Linked DNA regions of Homo sapiens: region 2 is linked to region 1. The links come from fine-mapping of genetic effects on gene expression. A gene starts in region 1. The other region holds a variant in brackets. All regions are shown on one strand. Distances are between the middles of the regions. Region 1 holds the start of CIMAP1A (ciliary microtubule associated protein 1A). Region 2 overlaps SIRT3 (sirtuin 3).

Region 1 (5,217 bases):
GATACTCCTCCATGCACACATGTGAACATACACAGAGATCCAAACACAGGTGCAGACATGAAATGTACACTGCGTGCACACATGTATAAACACGTTCACACCCACATGCTCACACTGGGATATGCACACACATACATGTGTGCACACCATCACATGTGCACACACACCTCCCAGCTGCTGGGAGGAGATAGGCAGCAATATGCCAGACCCCCCCCCACTGAGGGCCTTGCTTGCCTGATGGAGCTGTGGCTCTCCACTTATTGAGCACAGCCCTCTTAGTCCACATGTGTCTGCCTTCCAGGTGCAAGTGCTGGGCAGTCAGGACGGTGCCTAAGTGGACCTCAGACATGGCTCAGCCATAGGACCTGCCACACAAGCAGCCGTGGACACAACGCCCACTACCACCTCCCACATGGAAATGTATCCTCAAACCGTTTAATCAATAAAGCCTCTTCCGCAGCTCAGGCTCCTGTCTCTGCCCCCACAGAGGGGCACACAAATGGGGACATCAGGAACACACTCGGGGCCACAGCCACACACACAGACCCACATACAGAGGATCCCACTCAAGGAGCACACGTGCGAAAGTCCCCACAGAGGGACACACAAATGGGGACATCAGGAACACAGGGCCACAGCCACACACACAGACCCACATACAGAGGATCCTACTCAAGGAGCACACGTGCGAAAGTCCCCCACAGAGGGACACACAAATGGGGACATCAGGAACACAGGGCCACAGCCACACACACAGACCCACATACAGAGGATCCCACTCAAGGAACACACGTGTGAAAGTCCCCACAGAGGTACACACAAATGGGGACATCAGGAACACAGGGCCACAGCCACACACACAGACCCACATACAGAGGATCCCACTCAAGGAACACACGTGTGAAAGTCCCCACAGAGGTACACACAGGGTCCACACAGGAGCAGGCACACCACAGGCAAGACCCAAAATGGAAATCCAGGCAGACGCCACGTAGGCAGGTGGACAGAGCACAGAGCCAGACAACACTGCGTGGTCGTCCGGAGGGGGCGTCTGGAGGGGGCGTCCGGAGGGAGACGGGCGGCAGAGGCAGCGGTATGAGGTGGGAGCCCCAGAAAGAGGAAGTGTCCAGGACTGGGTGGACACAGACCCCATGTCGCCCATGGGCTAGGTCAGGGCGGGGGTGCTCAGCATCTGAAAGCTGGTGTCGAGCCCCAAGAGGACCCCTGACAAGGCCAAGAAAAAGGTACACCCATGTCCAAGGGGGTTGGGAGCCGCAGGTGAGCAGCCTCTGAGGTCAGCCAGGGCAGCCCCAGCGCCCACACTGACTCACACCCACCACAACCAGCACAGACCCTGATCCTGACCCTGGATCCCAGACTCTCCCACAGCCAGAACCTTCCAGCATTTCAGCTGCCCAATCTATGGTCTCTTCTGGGGGCACAGCTGAGTGGAACCGCCCCATCCTTGGCCACCCTGGGTGCTGAGCCCTGACACTTCACTGCCCCGGCCCTCCTCTCCACACCTCTGTCCTGTCTGAGCCTGGCAAGGGGGCCATGCGGTGCTGTCGGCTCTGTGCTCTGTCCCACCTGCCTACATGGTATCTGCCTGGATTTCCATTTGGCTGAGGGAGCCCTAGGGAGGGGGCCCTGGAGGACTTGGTTACAGGGGACCTGGTGAGGGGACCCAGTGAGGGGGACTTCATGGGTGGGTGCCTGGTTGAGGGGACCTGGTGAAAGAAACATGGTGAGGGGGCCTGGTGAGGGGTGGTCTGGTGAGGGAACTTAGGGAAACCTGGTGAGGAGGACCTGGTGAGGGGACATGGGGGGGACCTTGGTGAGGGGACCTGGTGAGGGGACATAGGGGGACCTTGGTGAGCGGACCTGGTGAGGGGACATGGGGGGGACCTTGGTGAGGGGACCTGGTGAGGAGGACATGGGGGGGACCTTGGTGAGGGGACCTGGTGAGGGGACATGGGGGGGACCTTGGTGAGGGGACCTGGTGAGGGGACCTGGTGAGGGGACATAGGGGGGGACCTTGGTGAGGGGACCTGGTGAGGGGACATGGGGGGGACCTTGGTGAGGAGGACCTGGTGAGGGGACATGGGGGGGACCTTGGTGAGGGGACCTGGTGAGGGGACATGAGGGGGACCTTGGTGAGGGGACCTGGTGAGGAGGACATGGGGGGGACCTTGGTGAGGGGACCTGGTGAGGGGACATGGGGGGGACCTTGGTGAGGAGGACCTGGTGAGGGGACATGGGGGGGACCTTGGTGAGGGGACCTGGTGAGGGGACATGGGGGGGACCTTGGTGAGGGGACCTGGTGAGGGGACATGGGGGGGACCTTGGTGAGGGGACCTGGTGAGGGGACATGGGGGGGACCTTGGTGAGGGGACCTGGTGAGGGGACCTGGTGAGGAGGACATGGGTGGGGAGCCTTGGTGAGGGGACCTGGTGAGGAGGACCTGGTGAGGGGAACATGGTGAGGGGAACATGGTCAGGGGGACTTATAGGGGTGTCCTGTTGGGGGGACCTGGTGGTGAGATCTGGTGAGGGGATCAAAGGCAGAAGCCATTGTCTTGGTCACATAGACAGAATCTAGAACCTGTCATCCCACAGAGCCACATTCTAGAGTTTAGAGTGGGGGACCTCTCCCCAATTCTGTAAGCCCATGAGGAGAGAGGAAGGCCTTTCTCTCCATGCTCCTTTTGCGGGAACTCCCTGGCACCAAGGCCAGGGGGGAAAGGACAGTCTCTGATGAGGATGGGTCTCTAGGCTGCTCTGAGTGCTGTCCCTGCACTGAAGAAGTTATAGTTCCCTCCCAGGCGGCCCCCTCCCTGCCCCTCAGCTCAGCCTCAATCAAGAAGTTCCCCATCTTTGACCACTCCAAGTAGGAGAAACCGGCCCAGGGCTCCCTTAGAGCCGAGAACAGTGGTGAGTTAAGGGCCAGCATGGACAGCAACTCTGGGTTACAGTTAAGCTGGTGAGGAGCTCACAGACCCATGCAGAAAGCTCCTACTGTCCCTGACTCCTGGCTCCCAGCTGGAGATCCCCACTGATGCTGCAGCAGGTTCCGCAGGTCTTACCCTTCAGTGTCAGCAAGAGCAGGGTCGGGGACATCAGGGGCCGGCATGGGACAGGGCCGGGCCTCCCAGCACCTGGTAACCCTCTCACTTACGGACAGAGCTGGCCATGACGGAGGAGGTATGGATGGGTACCTGGAGGCCCCATCGCCCCCGGGGACCCATCATGGCCCTCTACAGCAGCCCTGGACCCAAGTACCTGATTCCACCAACAACAGGTAAGAGCCTGAGAGACTGTGGGAGAGGGTCAGGAGCCAGGCGGGCAGGTGGGGGTCCCGGGAAGGGCCTGGGGCTCAATCCCTGACTCCCAGCGGGGAGAAGGGCAGGTCAGGCTCCGGGCTGCTCAGGGCCCATTGCGTCCACAGGCTTCATGAAGCACACGCCCACCAAGCTGCGTGCACCGGCCTACAGCTTCCGTGGGGCCCCCATGCTCCTGGCAGAGAACTGCTCCCCAGGGCCCCGTTACAATGTAAACCCCAAGATACTGAGGACTGGCAAGGACCTTGGCCCTGCCTACTCCATCCTGGGGCGCTACCAAACCAAGACCATGCTGACTCCTGGTCCAGGTTAGTGACCCTGTCTCAGGCTCCTGCCCTGCGCAGCCTCAGGCCTGCCCCTCCCTGCTGGGTGCCCCTAACCTCATGTCAGCAAGGGTGTGGGAGAGCTCAGCCATCCTGGCCCCTCCCGTCCCATCTTTCTCTCTTGAGGGGTCACCATCGTGCCTGGGCAGAGAAGACTCTGGCCCAAGAGTCCAGCTCCGACCTGGACCTTTCTCTGCCAGGCCGACGTCAGACCCCACTCTCCCTGCTCAAAAATAGCCTTTGTCTCACCAGCCCTGAAGTCAGCATTTCCATCCTGGACACCCCCTGACCCGACTTGGTCACCACCTGTGTTGGAGCCCAGAGGCCCCACGCCTAGAATGTTGGGGAGTCCTCCTTGAGCCCCCAAACTGGGCTGCATACCCACCTGCTTGTCCCAGCAGCCCCCTTGGCTCCTTGTCCAGGTGACTACTTTCCAGAGAAATCCACCAAGTACGTGTTCGACTCAGCACCCAGCCACTCCATCTCTGCCCGGACAAAGGCATTCCGAGTGGACAGCACCCCAGGTCCGCAGCAGCCCCAACCATCCTCAGCCAAATGGACCTGGGGATCCTGGGTGGGGTGTGTGACATGGGGCAGCCCGACGGCTGATCTCCAGAGTTGGGGGAGAGCCCCAGGGAAGGAGCAGTGGGCCCTGTTCCGGCCTGAGGCTCCACGTCCACCCTGCAGGCCCCGCTGCGTACATGCTGCCCATGGTAATGGGGCCCAATACCGTCGGCAAGGCCTCCCAGCCCTCCTTTTCCATCAAGGGCCGCAGCAAGCTGGGCGGCTTCAGCGACGACCTACACAAGGCAAGGGCCACCCCAACTGAGAACAGAGAATCACCCCCAACCATCTGAACCCTCCCCCGGAACCCAGGACCCACCAGTTCGGCCCTGCCTTGCCAATGCCCCTCAGCCCCCTCAGCCCTTCACCCTCTGGGCACCTGCCACGTGCTGGGGTTACACTGCAGTGGTGAGGAGGGGCAGGCAACAGGCCAGAAGGGAGACGCCCTGGCCCCAGCATGGACCGTGCTGAGGACAAGAGATGGGGTTTAGGAAGCACTGTCTGGAGAGAGAGAGGCAATCTTAGATAGGGTAGCATGGAAAGAAGAGGAGGAGGAAAAAATAAACCATGAGCTATTTGGGGGAGGAGGGTCCTGGTTTCAGAAACAGCCAGTGCAAAGCCCCTGGGTGGCACATGCCTGAGAGCTTGAGGGGCCTGAGATGGGGAAGCAGCATCATGGCACCCAACAGCCCTCGTCCATGTTGATTTTGCCAGCCCCAGGCCCTCAGGTCCAACAGGGCAGCAACAGCCTCTCTCACACACGCTCAGCGATGTTCCCAGGACTGGCACACACTGGGGATGCCATTGCCAGCGTGAGGCTGAAATGGAGGAAGTGACCCCCACATGAGGTACCCCACAAGCAGTGGGGTGTGATCTCCACAGTGTGACAGAAGACAGAAGGGGACCTTGATGCACGGGCACCAACTTGTAGCTGACCCTGTTGACTCAGAGCCTGAGTTTGCTCCCTGTCCTCTAGGGCCACACGCCCTGGGT
Region 2 (5,217 bases), 24 kb after region 1:
GAGAGTGCTGACCCCATGGCCCTGAGCCATGAGGCAGCCACAGCTGTGGACAAGGAAAAAGGATCAGGATTTCCTAAGACATCTGCCTTGGAAGGCAAGAGGAGCATCAACTGTGATATATTGTAGTTGATATGGTTTGGCTGTGTCCCCACCCAAATCTCACCTTGAATTGTAATCATCCCCATGTGTCAAGGGTGGGGCCAAGTGGAAGTAACTGAATCATGGGGGCGGGTCTTTCCCACACTCTTCTTCTGATAGTGAATAAGTCTCACAAGATCTGATAGTTTTATAAAGGGCAGTTCCCCCGCACACGTCCTCTTGCCTGCCACCTTGTAAGACAGTACTTTGCTCCTGCTTTGCCTTCCACTATGATTGTGAGGCCCCCACAGCCATATGGAACTGTGAGTCCATTAAACCTCTTTCCTTTATAAATTACCCAGTCTCAGGTATGCCTTTATGAGCAGCCAGAGAACAGACTAATACACTGGTGAAATCCCCTTTGGACAGTGTTACACCTGCCTGTAATCATGACACTGGACTTTAAATGCTTAATGCTACCACCTCCCATTGAAAACCCTTAATATCAAGGCTACACATGCTACATGATTCTTATGGGAAACTGCATTTTCTGTAACTTCACTTGTTTATAGGCGGTTTGAAATCTCTTAGAAAGCATCAAGGCTCTTTGGCTTTCCTCAGCGGATTATAATTGATCAATGGCTCTCATACCAATTACTTCCGAAAAGCATCACTCATGTAGCCTTCATCCCACATAGATGCAGAGAACTTTAGCTTCTCAAAGTTCTTTAACCCGTATCATCTTAGAATCACATACCAGGCCTTAGAGGGACACTGTTGGCTGCTTTATTTTAGGGAGTGAAGGTAACGCCTATAGTCTGTTAAGAATACAGACTCATCAGCCCTGAGTGTCTGGACCGTGTCCCTGCTTGGCCTGTTAGCATCTGTTTCCTCATCTCTAAATGGAGGTATTGAAAGTAACACCCAGTCAGGTCCAGGTAGTGCCTGGTGCAGGATTCACAGCATCATCAGCTATTACTGTTACTGTGTTAACCAACGGGGCTCCATATCAGGTGGACCATACCCTAGAGCAGTGAGAAGGGCAGCCCCTTGGATGGTCCTCCTCAGCAGTCTGTACCTTCCCAGTTTCCCGCTGCACAAGGTCCCGCATCTCTTCTGTCCAGCCCAGAAGCTCCACTAGGCTTTCCACGCCGTGAACCACGTCCCCCAGCTGGGCCACGTCCCTGCTGCGAGGATGCCAAGCCAAGGGCCCCACCAAGTCCCGGTTGATGAGCAGTCGGGGAACTGAGCTCCGCACGGCCTCGGTCAAGCTGGCAAAAGGCTCCACCTGAAAAATGGGCCAAACGTGAGGGGCACAGTGTCCACTTTACAAGCTCCTCAGGATGTTTCATGCCACAGCCACCGAGGCCTTGGAGGAGCAGCAGATTGGCAGTCAGAGCCTGCGATATAGGGAAAACCCACCACCAATCTCATTTCTTCAGCTGAGCTCCTGCCGCTTGGCCTCCGTGACGGTTTTCTCCCCTCCGCCTCTCTCTCTCTCTCCCACTTCTTGCTGTTTCCACACATCCTTGCTTTTCCCCACCTCCGTTCCAAGGCTCATCAGGGATCCAACCTTCCTGCCTCCTCTTTGTGAGCACGTTCTGTTCTCCCTGTCCTCCCCACCTCGCTGTCTCCCAGCATGACGCAGAGGGACAACAGCACAGACTCGTCCATCTCCTCTGGCTAGCCCTGCTTGCTCTGACAGCCACCACCAGCATCGGGCACCCAGACGAGCTGGTGCCCCCGAGCAGGAGTTACTGTTACGTCTCTCCATGGTCTTCCCCACCCAGCCTCTAGAGAGGCCTAGCTCGGTGCCATCAGGCTTCTTCATACAGCTCTCAAAGCTTCTTTTAAGAGGAACAAGGTAAAAAAATGGATACATTAATAAATGGCATTAAAACTGGCTCATTATCTGGGAGGAAAATACTCCATTCCTACCTCCCACTGAAAAAAATTCAAATGGATTAAAGGTTTCAATGTAAACAAAACAGTTCTTGAAGAAAACTAAGGATTTACAAGTAAGGATAGGGAAGAACGTTCTAGGCGTAAAAACTGAAGTCAGATAAGGCAAAGGAAAATGACAGATCTGACTATGTAAATACTATTATCTCGGTATCTACATAAAACTACTATGTAGAAAATTTAAAATTTTTAAAAACCTCTCATCATCATAAACTGCAAAAATATTTACAACATATGACAATAGTTTATAT[T/G]GCTAATTGATAAACTCATTTATAAACATATAATTTATGAACTAATTTATAATGCTAATTTATAATGAAATTTATATTAACAGCTGGGCATGGTGGTTCACACCTATAATCCCAGCACTTTGGGAGGCCGAGGCGGGCAGATCAGCTGAGGTCAGGAGTTCAAGACCAGCCTGGCCAACATAGTGAAACCACGTCTCTACTAAAAATACAAAACTTAGCTGGGCGTGGTGGCACGCACCTATAATCCGAGCTACTCGGGAGGTTGAGGCAGGAGAATGGCTTGAGCCTGGGAGGTGGAGGTTGCAGTGAGCCGAGATCGCGCCACTGAACCTCCAGCCTGGGAGACAGAGCAAGACTCTGTCTCAAAAAAAAAAAAAAAAAAAAGAAAGAAGTTTATATTAACATTAAAATGTAATTATATTATTTAATTTATACTAAAATTAAAACTAATTTATATTGCTAATTTATAATGACCCAATGAAAAATGGTCAAGAGGTACAAATATACAATCCAAAGAGAAGAAACACAACTGGCAATAAACATGAAAAGATGAACTTCATTCTTTACTACAGAAAGGCAAAATCCGCACCCCCCTCCACACACACACATGCATTTTTTAACCAATTTGATTTGTGTGATTTTGGTTTTGGTGAGGATGTGATAAAATGGCTACATAAAAACACAGTTTGTGGCAGTGTAATTGTTACATCTTTCTGGAAGGCAAGTTCTCAATATTTATCAGCATTTACCCTTCAGGAGTTCTTGCATGGGTAGATAAGGATGATACACAGGGATATTCACCACAGCATTTACCCTTCAGGAGTACTTGCATGGGTAGATAAGGATGACACACAGGGATATTCACCGGAAGGCAAGTTCTCAGTATTTATCAGCATTTACCCTTCCAGAGTACTTGCATGGGTAGATAAGGATGATACACAGGGATATTCACTACAGCATTTACCCTTCAGGAGTACTTGCATGGGTAGATAAGGATGACACACAGGGATATTCACCGGAAGGCAAGTTCTCAGTATTTATCAGCATTTACCCTTCCAGAGTACTTGCATGGGTAGATAAGGATGATACACAGGGATATTCACTACAGCATTTACCCTTCAGGAGTACTTGCATGAGTAGATAAGGATGATACACAGGGATATTCACTACAGCACGGGATCTCATTCTGTTACCCAGGCTGGAATGCAGTGGCATGATCATAGTTCACTATAACCTCAAATTCCTGGGCTCAAGCAATCCTCCTTCCTCAGCCTCTCAAATAGCTGCAACTACACAGACCATGCCTGGCTATCTTTTTATTTTTTGTAGAGACGAGGTCTGACTATACTGCCCAGGCTGGTCTCAAATGCCTAGCTTCAGGCAATCTTCCTGCCTTGGCCTCCCAGAGTGCTGGGATAACAGGTGTGAGCCACGGTGCCTGGCCCAGCATTACTTTTAATGTAAAAATTATATACTATTTATTATCATTGTCCATCAGTAAGAAATTGCTTACATAAATTTTGTATTAAATCCACAAAATCTATGTTAAAGCTCTTGTGGCTGAATATGTTTCAGAATTTTTGAGATTTTAGAAAAGATCATATGGTTTACATCCCACGTTATGTCACACCTAAAGGGGATCTGGAGTGGTACTCCACAGTCAAACACATTAACATTTCGTCCACAAAGCACATGAGATAGAGTCTGTGCGTGACACCAGCTCATTCAGTTCATGATGGCACCAGCCTTACAGACATGGGTTTCTCAGTTGGGACCTCATATCCGTGTAAGGGAAACTGTTGGCATTAACAACGCAGCACATCTCCATGGACTCACATTGTTACGTGAAAACAGCAGGCTGCAGAATAGAATGTACAGTGCTGTCCAACTTTTAGTTTAAAATTACCATCTGTACGTATGCATTTGTACAAAAAAAAGAAAGCTGAGAGGACACAGAATAAAATGCTAACAGTTGGTGGGATTAAAAAGTTGATCCTTTGCTTTATATCTTTATATAATGTACGAATCTTTTCAAAGACACACATGATACACTTATAATCAGGAAAAAGGCCATTTTCATTTCACTTCAACAATAAAGATGGCTGGTGGCCCAAGTGTCCACACCTGGTGGCCAGCACGGTCAGCTGGTCTCAGCCCACACTGTGCTGACCACCATGGCCCCTCTGACTGCTCCTCCTGTGTCTGTCCCTCCATCCTAGGCCTAGCATGGCATTCTCATGTCTGTCCACACCCTGGGCTCTCCTGTCTGCTCACTCCAGCACCCCAGCTCCTGCCTCTGGGCCTTCCTGGACTCCAGACTCATGTCCACCTGCTCAACACCTCCAGTCCGCAGCACATCCTCAAATCCGTGGAAACAAGGCTGAGTTCCTGAGCTCCCCCAAACCCACCTACCAGGCTTCTCCATCTCAGGAAGCGGCGGCTCCGTCTTTCCAGCTGCTCCAGCCACAGCCCTGGGGTCCTTGGGAATCCACGGCCTCCCATGCACTGTGCCAGCGTACCCACTCTGCGTTCACACACACCCAGACTCCAGCACCCCTCAGCCTCTGCTGGCTTTACCTGGCCCCCAGCCAGTGCCAGCCGGTGATTACCTACAAGGGCCCTGCTGGGTCTGCTGCTCCCAGTCTTGCCCCCATGGTGGGCTCACAGCCCAGCACCCAACGGAGTCCTCTCAACTTCAGACTCTGGCCTGGAACCCAAGCTGAACCCATTCACCTTCTGAGGTGGCGCCAGCCTCCCATGAGATGACACTTGTGCCCCACCTTCTTCTCTGCTCCAGCCCCGTGGCCATCAATGCTGACTTCGCCCCACCCTCCTTGCTGCTTGTCACCTGTGCAGTGTCCCCTGCCAGACCCTCCTCACCTCGGTAAACTCTTAGATCCAACTCCACCTGCCTGACTTGACACTG

The links. PIP is the estimated chance that this variant, and not a neighbour inherited with it, causes the effect.
Region 2: its variant is the best candidate, but not a certain one, in a credible set for the expression of CIMAP1A in whole blood (INTERVAL, PIP 0.70).

Annotation. Positions count from the first base shown.
Region 1 is chr11:194,117-199,333 of GRCh38, forward strand. It overlaps CIMAP1A (ciliary microtubule associated protein 1A), which reads left to right and starts at 2,645. Exons shown (of 7, transcript NM_053280.5): 1 at 2,645-2,930; 2 at 3,181-3,297; 3 at 3,445-3,645; 4 at 4,083-4,184; 5 at 4,348-4,469. The coding sequence starts at 3,189. It overlaps SCGB1C1 (secretoglobin family 1C member 1), which reads left to right. Exons shown (of 3, transcript NM_145651.3): 3 at 302-459. The coding sequence ends at 334.
Region 2 is chr11:217,676-222,892 of GRCh38, forward strand. SIRT3 (sirtuin 3) reads right to left here. Exons shown (of 7, transcript NM_012239.6): 6 at 1,157-1,366. Among named protein-coding and RNA genes, the nearest start is that of MIR6743, 11 kb to the left of the region's middle. The variant T/G (reference allele first, on the strand shown) is at 2,292.